Homo sapiens: one gene and its partners. The protein of the gene in region 1 interacts with the protein of each later gene in a biochemical or structural test. Each region holds a gene or a part of one and is shown on either strand. Other genes may lie near its edges.

The links.
Region 2: the proteins of ERBB2 (region 1) and PLCG1 form a complex in vitro, tested with the Homo sapiens proteins (2 studies listed by BioGRID and IntAct, with this or other methods).
Region 3: the proteins of ERBB2 (region 1) and BLNK form a complex in vitro, tested with the Homo sapiens proteins (2 studies listed by BioGRID and IntAct, with this or other methods).

Annotation. Positions count from the first base shown.
Region 1 is NC_000017.11:39,723,157-39,730,000, forward strand, and holds the end of ERBB2 (receptor tyrosine-protein kinase erbB-2 isoform a precursor), read left to right. Parts: intron 1-162; coding exon 163-301; intron 302-381; coding exon 382-504; intron 505-755; coding exon 756-854; intron 855-1,569; coding exon 1,570-1,755; intron 1,756-1,892; coding exon 1,893-2,048; intron 2,049-2,170; coding exon 2,171-2,246; intron 2,247-2,550; coding exon 2,551-2,697; intron 2,698-3,338; exon of another isoform or gene 3,339-3,405; coding exon 3,406-3,503; intron 3,504-3,658; coding exon 3,659-3,847; intron 3,848-4,138; coding exon 4,139-4,391; intron 4,392-4,532; coding exon 4,533-4,888; 3' UTR 4,889-5,502; downstream 5,503-6,844. Other genes in the region: MIEN1 (migration and invasion enhancer 1), read right to left, coding at 6,442-6,605. UniProt on the Homo sapiens protein: Protein tyrosine kinase that is part of several cell surface receptor complexes, but that apparently needs a coreceptor for ligand binding. Essential component of a neuregulin-receptor complex, although neuregulins do not interact with it alone.
Region 2 is NC_000020.11:41,160,813-41,169,561, forward strand, and holds part of PLCG1 (1-phosphatidylinositol 4,5-bisphosphate phosphodiesterase gamma-1), read left to right. Parts: intron 1-1,639; coding exon 1,640-1,724; intron 1,725-1,829; coding exon 1,830-1,913; intron 1,914-2,145; coding exon 2,146-2,180; intron 2,181-2,390; coding exon 2,391-2,463; intron 2,464-2,565; coding exon 2,566-2,667; intron 2,668-2,902; coding exon 2,903-3,021; intron 3,022-3,108; coding exon 3,109-3,194; intron 3,195-3,268; coding exon 3,269-3,389; intron 3,390-4,120; coding exon 4,121-4,289; intron 4,290-4,432; coding exon 4,433-4,555; intron 4,556-4,637; coding exon 4,638-4,739; intron 4,740-4,826; coding exon 4,827-5,014; intron 5,015-5,381; coding exon 5,382-5,582; intron 5,583-5,663; coding exon 5,664-5,783; intron 5,784-5,866; coding exon 5,867-6,047; intron 6,048-7,039; coding exon 7,040-7,117; intron 7,118-7,954; coding exon 7,955-8,058; intron 8,059-8,210; exon of another isoform or gene 8,211-8,266; coding exon 8,267-8,363; intron 8,364-8,644; coding exon 8,645-8,714; intron 8,715-8,749. UniProt on the Homo sapiens protein: Mediates the production of the second messenger molecules diacylglycerol (DAG) and inositol 1,4,5-trisphosphate (IP3). Plays an important role in the regulation of intracellular signaling cascades.
Region 3 is NC_000010.11:96,187,652-96,192,299, reverse strand, and holds the end of BLNK (B-cell linker protein), read left to right. Parts: intron 1-207; coding exon 208-327; 3' UTR 328-3,129; downstream 3,130-4,648. UniProt on the Homo sapiens protein: Functions as a central linker protein, downstream of the B-cell receptor (BCR), bridging the SYK kinase to a multitude of signaling pathways and regulating biological outcomes of B-cell function and development.

The sequences.
Region 1 (6,844 bases):
GGAGCCAAGGCAGGTTTTAGAGTAGGAGAGGGTCCAAGCCTGTGGGTCACCCTTCCGACTTCCCTTTCCGAATGCCAAACACCTTCATGTCCCCCGTGGGCCCCCTTTGTCCCTCCCACCCCAAACTAGCCCTCAATCCCTGACCCTGGCTTCCGCCCCCAGCCCTCTGACGTCCATCATCTCTGCGGTGGTTGGCATTCTGCTGGTCGTGGTCTTGGGGGTGGTCTTTGGGATCCTCATCAAGCGACGGCAGCAGAAGATCCGGAAGTACACGATGCGGAGACTGCTGCAGGAAACGGAGGTGAGGCGGGGTGAAGTCCTCCCAGCCCGCGTGGGGTCTGCACCGGCCCCCGGCACTGACCCACCACCCCCTCACCCCAGCTGGTGGAGCCGCTGACACCTAGCGGAGCGATGCCCAACCAGGCGCAGATGCGGATCCTGAAAGAGACGGAGCTGAGGAAGGTGAAGGTGCTTGGATCTGGCGCTTTTGGCACAGTCTACAAGGTCAGGGCCAGGTCCTGGGGTGGGCGGCCCCAGAGGATGGGGGCGGTGCCTGGAGGGGTGTGGTCGGCAGTTCTGATGGGAGGGGCAAGAGCTGGAGGCAGTGTTTGGGGGAGGGCAGTTACAGCGGAGAAGGGAGCGGGGCCAAGCCCTAGGGTGGTGAAGGATGTTTGGAGGACAAGTAATGATCTCCTGGAAGGCAGGTAGGATCCAGCCCACGCTCTTCTCACTCATATCCTCCTCTTTCTGCCCAGGGCATCTGGATCCCTGATGGGGAGAATGTGAAAATTCCAGTGGCCATCAAAGTGTTGAGGGAAAACACATCCCCCAAAGCCAACAAAGAAATCTTAGACGTAAGCCCCTCCACCCTCTCCTGCTAGGAGGACAGGAAGGACCCCATGGCTGCAGGTCTGGGCTCTGGTCTCTCTTCATTGGGGTTTGGGGAGATATGACTCCCGCAAACCTAGACTATTTTTTTGGAGACGGAGTCTTGCTCTGTCACCCAGGCTGGAGTGCAGTGGCGTTATCTCGGCTCACTGCAACCTCCACCTCCTGGACTCAAGCGATTTTCATGCCTCAGGCTCCTGAGTAGCTGGGATTACAAGCGCCCGCTAATTTTTTTTTTTTTTTTGAGACAGAGTCTCGCTCTGTCACCCAGGCTAGAGTGAAATGGTGCGGTCTCAGCTCAGCCTCCCAGGTTAAAGCGATTCTTCTCCCTCAGTCTCCTGAGTAGCTGGGATTACAGGCGCGAGCCACCACGCCCGGCTAATTTTTGTATTTTTAGTAGAGATGGGATTTCACCATGTTGGCCAGGTTGGTGTCAAACTCCTGACCTCATGATCCGCCCGCCTCGGCCTCCCAAAGTGCTGGGATTACAGGTGTGAGCCACCGTGCCCGGCCTAATCTTTGTATTTTTAGTAGAGACAGGGTTTCACCATGTTGTCCAGGCTGGTACTTTGAGCCTTCACAGGCTGTGGGCCATGGCTGTGGTTTGTGATGGTTGGGAGGCTGTGTGGTGTTTGGGGGTGTGTGGTCTCCCATACCCTCTCAGCGTACCCTTGTCCCCAGGAAGCATACGTGATGGCTGGTGTGGGCTCCCCATATGTCTCCCGCCTTCTGGGCATCTGCCTGACATCCACGGTGCAGCTGGTGACACAGCTTATGCCCTATGGCTGCCTCTTAGACCATGTCCGGGAAAACCGCGGACGCCTGGGCTCCCAGGACCTGCTGAACTGGTGTATGCAGATTGCCAAGGTATGCACCTGGGCTCTTTGCAGGTCTCTCCGGAGCAAACCCCTATGTCCACAAGGGGCTAGGATGGGGACTCTTGCTGGGCATGTGGCCAGGCCCAGGCCCTCCCAGAAGGTCTACATGGGTGCTTCCCATTCCAGGGGATGAGCTACCTGGAGGATGTGCGGCTCGTACACAGGGACTTGGCCGCTCGGAACGTGCTGGTCAAGAGTCCCAACCATGTCAAAATTACAGACTTCGGGCTGGCTCGGCTGCTGGACATTGACGAGACAGAGTACCATGCAGATGGGGGCAAGGTTAGGTGAAGGACCAAGGAGCAGAGGAGGCTGGGTGGAGTGGTGTCTAGCCCATGGGAGAACTCTGAGTGGCCACCTCCCCACAACACACAGTTGGAGGACTTCCTCTTCTGCCCTCCCAGGTGCCCATCAAGTGGATGGCGCTGGAGTCCATTCTCCGCCGGCGGTTCACCCACCAGAGTGATGTGTGGAGTTATGGTGTGTGATGGGGGGTGTTGGGAGGGGTGGGTGAGGAGCCATGGCTGGAGGGAGGATGAGAGCTGGGATGGGGAGAATTACGGGGCCACCTCAGCATGTGAAGGGAGGGAAGGGGCTGCCTGTGCCCCACCTTGCAGGGTCTGTGCACTTCCCAGGATTAGGGAAAGACCGGGTAGGGTCTGTCTCCTGGCATCACATCTCCCCCTGCTACCTGCCATGATGCTAGACTCCTGAGCAGAACCTCTGGCTCAGTACACTAAAGCTCCCTCTGGCCCTCCCACTCCTGACCCTGTCTCTGCCTTAGGTGTGACTGTGTGGGAGCTGATGACTTTTGGGGCCAAACCTTACGATGGGATCCCAGCCCGGGAGATCCCTGACCTGCTGGAAAAGGGGGAGCGGCTGCCCCAGCCCCCCATCTGCACCATTGATGTCTACATGATCATGGTCAAATGTGCGTGGCTGAGCTGTGCTGGCTGCCTGGAGGAGGGTGGGAGGTCCTGGGTGGAGGAGCCCACAAGGGGCATGAAAGGGGACCAGGATGTATGTAGACCCAGGAGCCCTAGTATGTTAGGAGCCTCAAAACCTTCTTGTATCCCTTTTACAGTCAAAGTCCAAAGCCACTCTTGAGGAACACTCTTGTACAAAATTAAGCTGGGCACAGTGGCTCATGCCTGTAATCCCAGTACTTTTGGAGGCTGAGGTGGGAGGATCCCTTGAAGCCAGGAGTTCAAGACCAGCCTGGGCAACATAGTGAGATCCTATCTCTACAAAAAATAAAAAAATTATCTGGGTGTGGTGGTGTGTGCCAGTAGTCCCAGCTACTCAGGAGAGGCTGAGGCAGGAAGATCACTTGAGCCTAGTTTAAGGTTGCAGTAAGCTATGATTGCACCACTGAAATCCAGCCTGGGTGACAGAGCGAAACCTCATCTCAAAAAAATAAAAAAGCAAACAAAAAGAAAAAAAAAATTAAAAGGGAAACTAGAAGAGATGCCAAAGGTTCTGGCTGAAGACCCCAGAGTCTGGTGCTACTTCTCTACCACCTGAGGGCTTTGGGCTGTCCCTTGGGACTGTCTAGACCAGACTGGAGGGGGAGTGGGAGGGGAGAGGCAGCAAGCACACAGGGCCTGGGACTAGCATGCTGACCTCCCTCCTGCCCCAGGTTGGATGATTGACTCTGAATGTCGGCCAAGATTCCGGGAGTTGGTGTCTGAATTCTCCCGCATGGCCAGGGACCCCCAGCGCTTTGTGGTCATCCAGGTACTGGGCCTCTGTGCCCCATCCCTGCCTGTGGCTAAGAGCACCCTCCTGCAGAGGGTGGGAAGGAGAGATGAGTCCAGTATGCCAGGCCCCTCACGGAAGGCTGCATGCTGGGCTGGGGAGGGGCCACCATCCTGCCTCTCCTTCCTCCACAGAATGAGGACTTGGGCCCAGCCAGTCCCTTGGACAGCACCTTCTACCGCTCACTGCTGGAGGACGATGACATGGGGGACCTGGTGGATGCTGAGGAGTATCTGGTACCCCAGCAGGGCTTCTTCTGTCCAGACCCTGCCCCGGGCGCTGGGGGCATGGTCCACCACAGGCACCGCAGCTCATCTACCAGGGTCAGTGCCCTCGGTCACACTGTGTGGCTGTCTGCTTACCTCCCCCAACCCCGGTGGACTAGGGTCCCTTTCTCTGATGTTCCCTCAACTGTCACCTCTCAAGGAAACCCCATTATCCCTACAAAAAATTCTTACTGCCTTCCAACCCCTGTGACCCCATTCTCTCCACGGTGACTGTGTCATACCCCAAAGGTGACCTCTGTTTTTCTCCTGTGACCCTGTCACCTTCCATGGAGTCCCCATCCCAGATCCGTGAGTGACCCCCATCATGACTTTCTTTCTTGTCCCCAGAGTGGCGGTGGGGACCTGACACTAGGGCTGGAGCCCTCTGAAGAGGAGGCCCCCAGGTCTCCACTGGCACCCTCCGAAGGGGCTGGCTCCGATGTATTTGATGGTGACCTGGGAATGGGGGCAGCCAAGGGGCTGCAAAGCCTCCCCACACATGACCCCAGCCCTCTACAGCGGTACAGTGAGGACCCCACAGTACCCCTGCCCTCTGAGACTGATGGCTACGTTGCCCCCCTGACCTGCAGCCCCCAGCCTGGTATGGAGTCCAGTCTAAGCAGAGAGACTGATGGGCAGGGGAGGTGGGACCTTCAGCCCAGGGTCCACTGTGGGGGCAGAGGGAGTGGCAGAGACACCGGGGTTCCTTCCCCTAATGGGTCACCTTCTCTTGACCTTTCAGAATATGTGAACCAGCCAGATGTTCGGCCCCAGCCCCCTTCGCCCCGAGAGGGCCCTCTGCCTGCTGCCCGACCTGCTGGTGCCACTCTGGAAAGGCCCAAGACTCTCTCCCCAGGGAAGAATGGGGTCGTCAAAGACGTTTTTGCCTTTGGGGGTGCCGTGGAGAACCCCGAGTACTTGACACCCCAGGGAGGAGCTGCCCCTCAGCCCCACCCTCCTCCTGCCTTCAGCCCAGCCTTCGACAACCTCTATTACTGGGACCAGGACCCACCAGAGCGGGGGGCTCCACCCAGCACCTTCAAAGGGACACCTACGGCAGAGAACCCAGAGTACCTGGGTCTGGACGTGCCAGTGTGAACCAGAAGGCCAAGTCCGCAGAAGCCCTGATGTGTCCTCAGGGAGCAGGGAAGGCCTGACTTCTGCTGGCATCAAGAGGTGGGAGGGCCCTCCGACCACTTCCAGGGGAACCTGCCATGCCAGGAACCTGTCCTAAGGAACCTTCCTTCCTGCTTGAGTTCCCAGATGGCTGGAAGGGGTCCAGCCTCGTTGGAAGAGGAACAGCACTGGGGAGTCTTTGTGGATTCTGAGGCCCTGCCCAATGAGACTCTAGGGTCCAGTGGATGCCACAGCCCAGCTTGGCCCTTTCCTTCCAGATCCTGGGTACTGAAAGCCTTAGGGAAGCTGGCCTGAGAGGGGAAGCGGCCCTAAGGGAGTGTCTAAGAACAAAAGCGACCCATTCAGAGACTGTCCCTGAAACCTAGTACTGCCCCCCATGAGGAAGGAACAGCAATGGTGTCAGTATCCAGGCTTTGTACAGAGTGCTTTTCTGTTTAGTTTTTACTTTTTTTGTTTTGTTTTTTTAAAGATGAAATAAAGACCCAGGGGGAGAATGGGTGTTGTATGGGGAGGCAAGTGTGGGGGGTCCTTCTCCACACCCACTTTGTCCATTTGCAAATATATTTTGGAAAACAGCTAGGCACCGGCCTATGTCTGGGGGTGGCTCTGTGCCATCCCTTCCTGCTCACCTTACACTCAATTCCTCTTTTCCTGGAGGGAGTGGCTGGGAATCTTCAGAAAGCTTGGATGAGGAGCCAGACATCCAGTTCTCCAGCTTCAGGGTTGGGGGAGATCGGGAAGCTGGATTCAGATCTGAGAGCCCTTTGACGACCAGATCATTCTTATTTAGAACGAACTAATTCCTAAGGCCACTCACCAGAATGGGGTTATTTCCTCCTTGTGAGTGAGGAGAGTGGTGGGTAGGGTGGGGGAAAGACGAGGCAGGGTCTACTGTGGGACTCATTTTCCTTGCCTTGGCTATGCCAGAGGAGCTCACTGACCTAAGGAGTAGCTGTCCAGAAAGCCCACCCAGCCAGCACAGCCACCCTGGCGGTGCAAAGGCTGGGCTGACCGGACTTCTGTGCCCCCCACATTCCCAGACTGGACGTATAAAAACACACACTAGTTAGCATTAGTGTTTGTAGCGCCACTTTACTGCCAATAGCTGACATTGCCCTGGGTTAGGGGAGAATAAATAAAATCTGTGGCATCAGACAGGTATTACCGAGGCGAAGAGTGGACTGGGCTTTCGTGGGCACTTACCCTGGGAAGGGGGTATGAGGTGGCTGGAGAAGTGTTCATGGAGAGTGTCTCTCTCCTGCCCCCAAGGCCACGGAATCTTCTATTCCTTCTTTGTACCCAAAGGGCAAAGTGGAGGCCAGGGTCTCTTTGCTAAGGAGCTAAGTAGGGGAAAGAGGCAGGGGGAGCTCCCAGCAGGACCAAAGGGAGACCAAGGTTTGGACCCCAGAACAGAGCAGGAACCCAGAGTCCTGTGCAGTCACAGGATGACGCAGGGAGGACGGCTGTTGGTGATCTTTTCTAGGGTTTCTCCATTACTGGCTCTTCGGATGGCCTCAATGAGCTAGAGGAGTGGAATGACAGGATGATGCACTGTTGGGGTAGGGTGACCAAGAGGTCCTCCCAACGCTGTAAATACTCACATCTTTCTCATAGGGAAAGCCCCCATTCTCCAGCTTGGAGAACACCAGCTGTCCATTTATCTCTATCTCAAAGGCACCTGGTAAGAAATCAACAGATAAATGGTACACTGAGAACATAGGCAGAAGTCAGGAGTTCCTCCAAAGGGGTCCCCCGCCTTCAAGTCCCCCATCAATCCCACTGGAGACCCATTTGTAGCTCCTTAAGCAATTCCCCAACCCTGGGTCAACTCCAGGGAACCTGAGGGAGGCCTCGCCTGTGTGCCCCTCGCAACACTCAATAAAGGACTCCCTCCCCTCCAACCCTACACGATTGCAG
Region 2 (8,749 bases), on another chromosome or scaffold:
TGAGAGGCATTGAGGATAATAGTATGCTGTTTGGCTTGAGCAACTGGAAAACAGAGTCACCATTGACTGAGATGAGAAGATCATGGGACTAGCCCATTTGGAGGGAAGCTTGGGTTCAGTTCGAGGCATGTTAAGTTTTCTGATGCCTATTAGCTGTCCAGGGAGAGATGTTGAGTAGGCAGGTGGTTAGAGTGAGTTTAGGTACATACACAGTAGGGGCTACAGATTTTAACTTGGGAGTATGTAGATAACACTGAAAGCCACAGGGCTGGGTGAGATCACCTAGGGGGCAAGCAGACCAAGAAAAGGGCAGGGTCCAGTGGCTGATCCCAGACCACCCCCATATTAGAGATTGGAGGGGTCAGGGACAACTAGTGCGGTAAGAGGAGAACCCCCAGAGTGTTGAGTTCTGGCAGCCCAAGGAAGAAGACAGTGGTGAAATCTGACCGTTGACCCTTGGATTTAACATGGTGAGAAGAGCGGTGTCACCCTAGCGGTGAGGGGCTCAAGGGAATGAGAGGGAGCAAGATGACTCTTGCAAGGAGTTTTGCTATGGAGGGGAGCAAAGAAGAGGGCAGTAGCTGGAGAGCTAAGCAGGGGCAAGACAGGTGTTTTTGGTGGAAGAAGTAACAAGCTGTTCGTATGCTGATGGGAAAGAGACCACAGAGGGCAAGATCGGTGATGCAGGCAGTTGCAACCAGAAGGCCTCTGTTTCCTCACTGGAAAACAAGGACCCTGATAGCACCTACCTCCTGGGTGACTGAGGATCAGAGGAGGGGGCGCCTATATAGAGCCAGCCCTCCCTCCGCAGTGCTTGATCCACTCAGTGTGGCGCTCAGCCCCCTCGGGGAATTTTGGTGCCTCCTCCCAGGCTCTTGGGGCCCAGAGGAGGTGGTCCCACCCTCCCCTCCCCTCCTTGACACCACCTTCCAGGAGAGAAAGCCCCCCCCTTCCCCCTTCTTGTCCATCCTGTTGCCAGGTCCAGCAGTGTCCCCAGCCTCACATCCTGGGCAGGACACCCCTGGAGAGCAGGGGCGCTTGTTCTCTCAGTTTCTTTCCTGGAGCCAGGCCCTGTCTAGCCCCAGGAGGTGCCCAGTTGCCAGTCATTGTATTTGGTGGAGCATGCACCTCCTCCTTCCTCCCTCTCATGGGTTAGTGGGTTCTGAGGACCAAACTCCCAGCATCCCAGTGGGCAGCAGGTAGGGACCTGCTGCCATGCTGCCCCCAACAGGGAAGTTGTGAGTGAGCCCTGCCTTCTGTCTTGGATAGGCTGACTGCCACCTTGGCACAGGCCTCAGCAGTGCCGGTAGGAGGGGAGGCCTGGAGTGTGGTTTTTCTTCCTCCCATGCCTGACCCACTTTACTGAATCTGTTCACATCTTCCTTGCCAGAATTACAGGTTTTTTTTGTTTGTTTTGTTTTTGTTTTTTTTTTTTTTTTTTTTGCTCAGATGAGGAACTGAGGTCCAAAGAAAGGAAGGGACTAACCTCACCCCATGGGTTCTGATCCAGTCTTGCCCTCAGGCCTCCAGGTTCCCAGAATAGTGTTGTTTACCTGTCCAGCCCCAGGTGGGCTCGACCCACAGGTCAGAGGTCATGAGAAGCTGGATGAGACCACTGGGGATGTCCCTGTTTTCTCAGTATATCAGCCAAGGACCTGAAGAACATGCTGTCCCAGGTCAACTACCGGGTCCCCAACATGCGCTTCCTCCGAGAGCGGCTGACGGTAAGTGCCACCCAGGGCTGTCTGTAGATGGGGGCAGGGGAAGCCAAGAGCCCTTCAGCTGGGGGCCTGACTGCCTGACTGGCACTCCTGCTCTATACCATGCAGGACCTGGAGCAGCGCAGCGGGGACATCACCTACGGGCAGTTTGCTCAGCTGTACCGCAGCCTCATGTACAGCGCCCAGAAGACGGTGCATGAGCCACCTGCCCTCCCTCAACCCCTGCCCCTGCTCTTCCACCCCACACCCCAGCTCTGCCTGCCTCAGCCCTGCTGCCCTGCTTAGGGGCTTTTGGGTGCCATTTCTCCAGTTCTTCTCCTCTTGAGGCCTGCCCCCATCTGCTGCTCTAGCCTGCCTTCTTACTAGCCCATTTCCCACATGGCCTCCCAGGGGTCTTGCCCTGACCAGGTTCTGTTTCCTGCAGATGGACCTCCCCTTCTTGGAAGCCAGTACTCTGAGGTTTGGTTTGGAGTGGGGAGGTGGGGTTTTCCCTGGGCCCCCTTCATCTCTCCACTGGGCGATTCTTGATCCAGGTGGGAGGCAGTGGGAGTAGGGAACCATGCTGGACCATTCTGGGAAGCTGTGCTGGCTGGGAGTTGGGTTCTGCCTTCCGTGGGGCACCTTGTTGTCTGTTGACCATACTAGCTAGCTTACCTTCTCTCCCTGCAGGGCTGGGGAGCGGCCGGAGCTTTGCCGAGTGTCCCTTCCTGAGTTCCAGCAGTTCCTTCTTGACTACCAGGGGGTATGGCTGGGCTGACATTGGCCCAGGCTGGTAGGTTGTGGGGGGCTGGGCTCATCCCTGACTGGAGGCTTCTCTCATCCCCTGCCCTCCCTACCCCATCAGGAGCTGTGGGCTGTTGATCGCCTCCAGGTGCAGGAGTTCATGCTCAGCTTCCTCCGAGACCCCTTACGAGAGATCGAGGAGCCATACTTCTTCCTGGATGAGGTGAGCCCGATGTTTCACCCATTTTTTGTCAAGAGAATGAGTAGGGGTGACCAGGACCCCACCCGGGCTCCAGGAGCTAGACGCTCCTTAGGGATGCCACCTTGTTTCTACCTACTGTGCACCTTGCCCACCCCCAGTTGGGACAGAGCACTCTCTCTCCTACCCCCAACCTACCATCTTGGGTTGGACAGGGCAGGGACTCACTGTCTCTTCCCTTCCACATGTTTCTGGACAGTTTGTCACCTTCCTGTTCTCCAAAGAGAACAGTGTGTGGAACTCGCAGCTGGATGCAGTATGCCCGGACACCATGAACAACCCTCTTTCCCACTACTGGATCTCCTCCTCGCACAACACGTGAGTGTGGCTCCTTCAGGCCCACCCAGCTTCTTCCCCAGGAGGGCCCATCTGACCATACCTACCTGCCTCTCCTTGCCTATCCAGGTACCTGACCGGGGACCAGTTCTCCAGTGAGTCCTCCTTGGAAGCCTATGCTCGCTGCCTGCGGATGGGCTGTCGCTGCATTGAGTGTGCGTGGGGTCCAGGGCTGGGGGAGGGAAGATGGGAGGCCTGCCCGCTTGACCATGGTGATGTTGCTCCCCAGTGGACTGCTGGGACGGCCCGGATGGGATGCCAGTTATTTACCATGGGCACACCCTTACCACCAAGATCAAGTTCTCAGATGTCCTGCACACCATCAAGGAGCATGCCTTTGTGGCCTCAGAGTGAGTCGGAGGCTGGATGACCCAGGGGTTAACTTGGCTCCAGGTCTCTCGTTCTAGAGGGACAGAGGGCAGAAAGACTCCTCAAATGCCCTGTCCCCTCTCCCTCAGCCTTTCATCTTTGTCCTTCCTCTTGGCCTCTCCTCGTCACCTGCTCCCTGCTTGAGCTGTTGCTTCCCAAGTTACACTTTCTGTTTCCTACGTGTTGGGCCCACTCTCTTCTTCATGGGTCCTTTAGACTGTAGAACACATGCTCTTCTCATCTTCAGAAAACATGCCCTGGTTTCTTTAGGCCAGTGTCCTGCCAACTCCTTTGCCCTCACAGCCCAGAAGATTGTCTCTGTTCCCTGTGTCCCATTCCTTCAATTCTGTTTACTGCTTAAACTGTGGTCACTGGTCTCCCTTAGCTCACCAGGGCTCTAACAGCTAACTTTGGAGGCTTCTCCTCTCTCCTGGCCTCTTTGGTGTGAAACATTTTTCTTGCACTGCTGAGCAGCCTCCATAATTGGGCCAGCTCGGGACTGCATCAGTTGCCACCCTTTGGTTTCCACTGCTGCCACAGCTGTAGAACCCCTCTCTGCCCCACCAGTGGCTATGGCCTGCCTCTTTTCTGGGATAGTTTTTACAGACAAGAAGCCCCCAGGCCCTTGGCTTCCAACAGCTCACTGTGAGGGGCTACTTAGACCCAGAGAATTGCAGAATCTGTTTCACTGTGCTTGTCCCCCATCCCGCAGGTACCCAGTCATCCTGTCCATTGAGGACCACTGCAGCATTGCCCAGCAGAGAAACATGGCCCAATACTTCAAGAAGGTGCTGGGGGACACACTCCTCACCAAGCCCGTGGAGATCTCTGCCGACGGGCTCCCCTCACCCAACCAGCTTAAGAGGAAGATCCTCATCAAGGTGGGGTGGCGGGCTTATTGCGGAAGCCCCACACTTCTCAGTGCCTTGCCCAGGCCATGGCTTCAGCTGTTGGGCCTAAACCTGGGTGAGGAGGTGGGGTGAGGACTGGGGTCTGCATTGCCCTGTTCTGGTTGCCCCTACAGCACAAGAAGCTGGCTGAGGGCAGTGCCTACGAGGAGGTGCCTACATCCATGATGTACTCTGAGAACGACATCAGCAACTCTATCAAGAATGGCATCCTCTACCTGGAGGACCCTGTGAACCACGTGAGGACTGGGCCAGGCTGGGGGTGGTAGGCCAGTGGGTGTGAGGACCCTGGCTCACAAGTCCCTCTTTGGTCTGTTCCAGGAATGGTATCCCCACTACTTTGTTCTGACCAGCAGCAAGATCTACTACTCTGAGGAGACCAGCAGTGACCAGGGCAACGAGGATGAGGAGGAGCCCAAGGAGGTGAGGAACCAGCTCAGGTCTGGGGGCTGGGCCAGGTCAGGCCTGGGCCAGGGTCACAGTATCTTTGCTGTTGCCTTCCCCTGACAGGTCAGCAGCAGCACAGAGCTGCACTCCAATGAGAAGTGGTTCCATGGGAAGCTAGGGGCAGGGCGTGACGGGCGTCACATCGCTGAGCGCCTGCTTACTGAGTACTGCATCGAGACCGGAGCCCCTGACGGCTCCTTCCTCGTGCGAGAGAGTGAGACCTTCGTGGGCGACTACACGCTCTCTTTCTGGTAACACTTCCCATGCAGATGCGTATGTTCAGTCAGCGTGTGTACACAGACATCACATCACCCAGAGATAATCAGTTAACATTTGAGCCTTTGATCCAGGACAATAATTAGGCTTTACATGGAACATAATTTCACCTACATACACACACACACTCTCTGTCTCACCCCCCCCCCATACCCCTCCCTTTTCGGTTCATTTGAAGCCCACACCTTTGGTTCATGTGACTGCCCACACCTGAGCTCCTCAGGAGATTGGCCTCCCTCCTTGAGGCTCCCTCCTTGAGTTCCACCCTCATTTGGGGTGGAACTTGGTCTTTGGGGCCCTGGCCTGTTTTCCCCAGCCTCCCTCACTCTGTGTCTTCCACAGGCGGAACGGGAAAGTCCAGCACTGCCGTATCCACTCCCGGCAAGATGCTGGGACCCCCAAGTTCTTCTTGACAGACAACCTCGTCTTTGACTCCCTCTATGACCTCATCACGCACTACCAGCAGGTGCCCCTGCGCTGTAATGAGTTTGAGATGCGACTTTCAGAGCCTGTCCCACAGACCAACGCCCACGAGAGCAAAGAGTGAGGGAAGGGCCTGGGGGCGGACAAGGCAGGGCAGGGCCATGGGTGGTGCTGGCCGGGCCTGACTCTGCCTGTTCTCAGGTGGTACCACGCGAGCCTGACCAGAGCACAGGCTGAGCACATGCTAATGCGCGTCCCTCGTGATGGGGCCTTCCTGGTGCGGAAGCGGAATGAACCCAACTCATATGCCATCTCTTTCCGGTGAGGGGTGTGGCACTGGGTTGTGGGGCCTTGCTTGGGTCTGAGCTGCCCTGACCCTGTGTGACTGTTTTGTCCTTGTGAAGGGCTGAGGGCAAGATCAAGCATTGCCGTGTCCAGCAAGAGGGCCAGACAGTGATGCTAGGGAACTCGGAGTTCGACAGCCTTGTTGACCTCATCAGCTACTATGAGAAACACCCGCTATACCGCAAGATGAAGCTGCGCTATCCCATCAACGAGGAGGCACTGGAGAAGATTGGCACAGCTGTGAGGGGGCTGTGGTAGACGGGGCATGGCAGGGGAGGCAGGAGAGACCCAGAATCTTACCAGTCTCTGGATGTGTGTAACAGCAAGACCTGGTGTGTTGTAGAAGTTCGTGGGAGGGCCCCTGACTCCAGCTGGGAGCCACAGTGTGGGTACCAGGAGGGTGTCTGCAGGAGGGGACATCTGAGCAGCATCTTTAAGGATGGGGACAGGCACATAAGCAGAGGGTTCCTCATGAGTCAAGATGTGGAGTGAGGAGGTTCTGGGGCTCACACTGGGAGAGGTGCACACAGTGGAAACTCATCCACCTGGGCTTGGCCTGGACTCTGTCCTAGGGCAGATGAGATGAGGCTACCCAAGAGTGGTTGTGGAGCCTCCGCCTGGTGGATGGTATGGAGGGCAGAGCCACAGGAGGTGAGACCAGTGAGGGAAAAAGTCAGGACCCATGGCAGCACAGCTGGTGATAAGGGCCCTGGACAGAAGGAAGGGGTCTAGGACCAGAAGATCAGTTGAGAGACTGCTGTCGTCAGTAGACAGGGCTGGCTGGGGAGAGAGAGGCCTGTTGTCCACTGGCACCTGGGACTCAAGTGATGGAGAGGAGCGGCAGGAGGAATGTGGGGAGTGGGAAGGCTTTTCCTGACTTTGGGCTCAGCAGTGAACCAACAAGCCACTGAACTAAAGCACTGAATATGGGTAGTCTGTGAAGGGCCCACCTGCACATAGCTCAGAAATACTTGGGAGTTTGGGCATTTAGGACCTGAGAGATTTTAGAATCCTGGGCTGGGCCTTACATGTAAGAATGTGAAGAAAGGAAAGGGAACAGTGAGGCCGGGCCTGAGGCCTCTGAAGCCGTCTCTACTGAGGTCGAAGGATCCCTGTGGATCAGGTGCAAGTTTGCTGCACTGGGGGAAAGGGAAGCTGCTCCAGAAACCAGTAGCTGCTTTCTACCTCTGGGCTCTGGGGCATTAACATATCCCATTGTGTCCTGTTTCCAGGAGCCTGACTACGGGGCCCTGTATGAGGGACGCAACCCTGGCTTCTATGTAGAGGCAAACCCTATGCCAACTTTCAAGGTACAGCTCAGGCCTCTGGGCATAGGAAGCTGGGGAGGGTCCCCAGCTGCTTGGGGCTTCATTTCTGTGTTCTGGGCCATCTGTGGTCTTTGTGGAGAAGTGGTGGTTGTGGTTTTCCGAGGCCCAAGAGGTTGTGAGAGATGTGTGGTTGGTGAGCGACCGCAGGTCTCCCAGGGCCGACCCACTCCCTAGCCCCTACCCCTTAAGTCAGCAGTGACCCTTTAAACTGCTCCTGTGGGTGACCCCTGTTTCCTTCCTGGGCAGCAGCGGGGTAGGAGCTGGGAGGCACACTGGCCACTCATTCCCCGGCCTCATGGAGCCCTGTTACACAGGTTCTTTTTTGTTTTGCCTTTTTCTCTAAAAAGGCCTGGGCCCTATTTCTCACCCCCTCCCCTCCACAGCCAGGGGACCTGGAAGGAAGTTTTTCTTTCCACTTCACAGATGAGTGGTAGGGTCCCATCCAGGCCCCATATGCTTCCAGGTCCCGGGGAGGCACTCAGGGCCACTGCAGACCCTGCCTTCTTGGCCTGCCAGCCCTGACTCCTGGGAGCGGATTCAAGGTTCTCCCTGTGGCCCAGGGTGGGGCTTAAGGTTCCACCTGGGTCCCGAGGTATTTCACTGGCAGAGGCCCTGCCTCTCTGATCATATCTGTCCTGGAGCTTCCCTGCAGGGCAGTAACAAGAACTATAACTAGGGCCTGTTGATGGCAGTGTCATCTCCCACTGGCCTGACCCCAGGCAGGGAAGCCCAAGCACATGTGTGTGTGCACATGAAGCCCCAGGTTGGCAGTGGCAGGGAGAGCCTTTCTGCTCTGACTGGTGCTTCTCACCTCTGCAGTGTGCAGTCAAAGCCCTCTTTGACTACAAGGCCCAGAGGGAGGACGAGCTGACCTTCATCAAGAGCGCCATCATCCAGAATGTGGAGAAGCAAGAGGGAGGCTGGTAAGCCAGTGGTGTGGTAGGCCCAGAGTCCAAGGGCCCCAGTGGAGCTGGGGCCCCAAAGACATGCATTTGTGATGTGCTTGTCTCCTGTGTGCACCAGCAGTGCCTGCCTCACCCTGGCTTAGGCATGGGAACCCCTACCAAAGGATACCCTCCTCATGGGAGTTCGGGGTGGTTGCTGGAGGTCAGCACCCTGTGGCTCCCACAGGTGGCGAGGGGACTACGGAGGGAAGAAGCAGCTGTGGTTCCCATCAAACTACGTGGAAGAGATGGTCAACCCCGTGGCCCTGGAGCCGGAGAGGGAGGTAAGACCAGAACCACCTGAGTAACAGCATTCCCTATTCCCAGATTCTCCTTGGCATGCCCCCATCACACAGTCCCAAGCACGCACGTGCATGCACAGACACCTGTCACATGGGCTGGTCGCACAGCCCATGTGGCCATGCACGTAGTCTCCCATATACCTGTGCTACATTTGGCAGTCACAGGTACACCCACAAGATGTATTTGTCCCATGCACACGGATATCCCCTCACACACATATGCAGTAGCCATGCTGACCATTGGTGGGCTTTGCTTCCCACAGCACTTGGACGAGAACAGCCCCCTAGGGGACTTGCTGCGGGGGGTCTTGGATGTGCCGGCTTGTCAGATTGGTGAGCTCCCATCTGTTTCTCTTGCCCACTGTTCC
Region 3 (4,648 bases), on another chromosome or scaffold:
TGTGTTTTTCTTCGTACTTAATACAGCAAAGTCCAAGGTCTGCCACCTTGAAGGTTACAGCCTTTGTTAAACTAGATTTTTTTGTGCAGAATGTCAGCTGGGGTGTAATAACTTTTACTAACTTGAGAATGAGAGAAGATGGGAGGAGTGGAGCTCAAATTTAACACAAATGCCAAAGTATAATTCATCTATGTTTTCTTCCTCTAGTACTTTGGAAGTGTTGCTGAAATCATCAGGAATCATCAACATAGTCCTTTGGTTCTTATTGACAGTCAGAATAACACAAAAGATTCCACCAGACTGAAGTATGCAGTTAAAGTTTCATAAAGGGGGAAAAAAAAGATCAATACCATTGCTTCAGACACTTTCCCAAAGTTTCTCCTTTTGAGAAAAAGTCCCAAAACTTCATATTTTGGATTATGAATCATCCAGTAATAAAATGGAAGATGGAGTCAGCTATTGAAGTGGTCATCCATTTCTTTTTAAGAAGCTCATGTGGACTTGTTCTATTGCCTGACCTGATGAACTGTTAATATCTGGTGAGGTTGAGTTATCATGCTACTAATATTTTCCAAATAAATATTTTTATTTTTAAAAATAAGTGTAAAGTATATTATCAAAATAAGAAAATAATGCTCTTGCATAAAACAAAGTGGCTGGAAATTTAAACCTCCACAATGATCATTGGTACACTAATGTAGCTGGGCTCTCCACTGCCAATGCTTGACAATTAAGTCTTGGTTAAAATTTTAATTTGTAGAAAATAAGGTATTAAAGGTAATGTATGATATCTGTAAGTATAGGCAAGAAGGATGTAATGGTTCCTTTTTGTGAGCACTCTCAACCATGGGATATATATATATATGGATATGAACTTTCTATAAGTTCTTGTCTAGGATTATGCTGTTAGTTTTGCTTACTAAAGATAATTATACCCTCTTTGATCTACATGTCTATCAAATAGAACCTAAACTTGATATGAGGTTTGTATTAGTCCATTATCACGCTGCTAATAAAGACATACTCAAGACTGGGTGATTTACATAAAAAAAAAAAAAAAAAAAGAGGTTTAATGGACTCACAGTTCCACATGGTTGGGGAGGCCTCACAATCATGGCAGAAGGCAAAGAAGAAGCAAAGGCATGTTTTACATGGTGGCAGGCAAGAGAGCATGTGCAGGGGAACTGCCCTTTATAAAACCATCAGATCTCATGAGACTTACTCACTATCACAACAACATGGGAAAACCTGCCCGCGTGATTCAGTTACCTCCCACCAGGTCCCTCCCATGGCACGTGGGGATTATGGGAGCTACAATTCAAGATGAGATTTGGGTGAGGACACAGCCAAACCATATCAAGTTTCAAAGTGGAATGACAGCAAAGCTAGACTAAAAGCCAGTTCCTAGAGAAATATCCCACAAAACAAGAGCAGAAAAGCAGACATTGGTGAACACCAAGGAATAAAAGAGATACCATCGTGGAGAATCAGGTCCAAGGTCTTAGATCATCCCAGAAATGTATCATACTTTGTCATATATTTCTACTGTGTACTTCAGACAGCAGTGAAGTGATAAAGCAGCTAATTAAGTCTAATAATTAAATGGGGAACACACTTGGCCACTGCATAAGATAGCAATCTATGAAAGTATGTTGAAAGGCCAGAAGGTAATAATTTCAGGGTAACTCATGACTCACTTCTAAAGATAATTGTATATTTAAATGTCATAAACTTTCATAATTGCCACCTATGTTACAGATTGAACTGTGGTCCCCTCAAAAAGATATGTTGAAGTCCTAATCCATAAGGCCACATATCTCAGAATGTGACCTTATTTGGGAATGAGGTCTTTACAGATATAGTCAAGGTAAGATGAGGTCAGTAGGGTGGGCCTTAATACAATGGCTGGTGTCCTTATAAAATTAGGAAATTTGGATGCAGGCACAGAGAGAAGACTATATGAAGAGACACACAGGAACAATACTACTGGCGTGATTCCATCCTGTATGGCTGTTCTCTTGAGCAGTGGTCGTTTATCTCCGTCTGCTTTCTCTCCCACCTAAGTGTGTGCCGCCACCTGATGGAAGATTCGATGGACATGGACGTGAGCCCCCTGAGGCCCAGAACTATCTTTTCAGTTGTGAACTAAAGGCCGACAAAGATGATCACTTTAAGGTGGATAATGATGAAAATGAGCACCAGTTATCCTTAAGAACGGTCAGTTTAGGGGCTGGTGCAAAGGATGAACTGCACATTGTTGAAGCAGAGGCAATGAATTATGAAGGCAGTCCAATTAAATAACACTGGCACCTTTGAAAATGTCTGTACAGCCAACAGTTTCCCTTGGGGTCTTTGAAATAACACCACCAGTGCTTTTATGGTTGAAGTGTGGTTCAGGGCCAGTGCATATTAGTGGACAGCATTTAGTAGCTGTGGAGGAAGATGCAGAGTCAGAAGATGAAGAGGAGGAGGATGTGAAACTCTTAAGGATATCTGGAAAGTGATCTGTCCCTGGAGGTGGTAGCAAGATTCCAGAGAATAAAAGTAAAACTTGCTGCTGATGAAGATGATGATGATGATGATGATGATGATGATGATGATTTTGATGATGAGGAAACTGAAGAAAAAGCACCATTGAAGAAATCTACATACTCCAGCCAAAAATGCACAAAAGTCAAATCAGAATAGAAAACACTCAAACCCATCATCAACACCAAGATTAAAAGGACAAGAATCCTTCAAAAAACAGGAAAAAACTCGTAAAACACCAAAAGGGCCTAGTTCTGTAGAAGACATTAAATCAAAAATGCAAGCAAGTATAGAAAAAGGTGGTTCTCTTCCCAAAGTGGAAGCCAAGTTCATCAATTATGTGAAGAATTGCTTCCGGACAACTGACCAGGAGACTATTCAAGATCCTGGCAGTGGAGGAAGTCTCTTTAGAAAATAGTTTAAACAATTTGTTAACATTTTTCCATCTTATTTCATTTCTCTAACAGTCAATATCTGGCTGTCCTTTCTATAATGCAGAGTGAGAACTTTCCCTACTGTGTTTAATAAATGTTGTCCAGGTTCCATTGCCAAGAATGTGTTGTCCAAAATGCCTGTTTCATTATTAAAGATGGAACTTCACCCTTTGCTTGGTTTTAAATATGTATGGAATGTTATGATAGGACATAGTAGTAGCAGTGGTCAGAACATGGAAATGGTGGGGAGACAAAAATATACATGTGAACTAAAACTTGGCATTTTAATAAAGTAGCATGGTTTCTATTGAAAAAAAAGATTACGACATGAAGATGAGGGACTGGAGTGATGCATCTGTAGGCCTGGGAGCACCAAAGATTGCCTGCAAACCATCAGAAGCTAGGAAGAGGCAAGAACAGACTTCCCTCCGGGTTTTAGAGGGAGCATGGCCCTGGTGGCACCTTGATTTTGGACTTTGAGTGTCCAGTACTTGAAGACAATAAATTTCTGGCTTTTTAAGCCACCCAGTTTATTATGGCGGCCATAGAAACCTAATAAAATTTATATGCATTTTTTACATTCAGGTATATAGGGGTTTGGGAAATTTTGTATGGAAAGGTTTTTTTTCTCCTTTTAGGAAAACCATTGAATCATTTTGAATGTACTAGAAAGGATGACTCACAATTTAAACTGGGAAACTGGGGTAATTTTTTGGTAAAGCAAAGCATCTGTTTGTAGTATGTGGCATCAGCTCTCTAGCTTCAGTTTTCCTCAGTGTTACACGGAATTATTTTCTATTTAAGTAAATCCTCATTAATTCCCACTGCTACCACAGCAACCCTGGCTCTATAACAACCTCTTATGCCTCATTCTTCCTCTCCTCCTCCAAGTGTCCTACTCCAGCTAGGTAATAGCATAGCTGTTAAGATTATACTAATCCTCAGTTGGTTGACATACAGTACTGCGTGGTGGATTTCTTGGAGCAGAGGCTGGGAGAATTTCTGAGAGATAGGCCATTCTCTGCTAAGGGCTCTACTCCTCCCCAAAGCTGGGAGAACTACCCAATCCAACATGCCAGTCTTTTCCCTCATCTTGCAGAAGAGTCCACTGAGGGTGATCCCACCTGCTTCTCTAAAGCCCACCTCTGCAAGTGGTATTCTTGATGAGATTAGAAAAGTCTTTAAGAGGCTGGGCATGGTGGCTTACACCTATAATCACAGTAGTTTGGCAGGCCGAAGCAGGTGGATCACTTGAGGCCAGGAGTTCAAGACCAACCTGGTCAACACAGGGAAACCCCATCTCTACTAAAACTAGAAAAAATTAACTGGGCATGGTGGCACTCGCCTGTAATTTCAGCTACTACTCAGGAGGCTGAGGCATGAGAATCACTTGAACCTGGGAGGCGGAGGTTGTAGTGAGCCAAGATCATGCCACTGCACTCTGGCCTGGGCCACAGAGTGAGACTCTGTCTCAAAATAAACAAATAAGAAATTTCAAACACCTGTCTGTGATCTCAATGTCTCAATGGCTGACAAACAAATGGTTTTGCATAAAGAAATTTTCAGGCAAGCTAGGTGGTGGAATAGGAGACACTAGTCAAGAAGTACATGTGTAGCAGCTGAAGAAGGAAAAAAACCACACCCCAGTTCTTGTCTTCTGTTGAAAAGTAGATTGCAGCTATGGT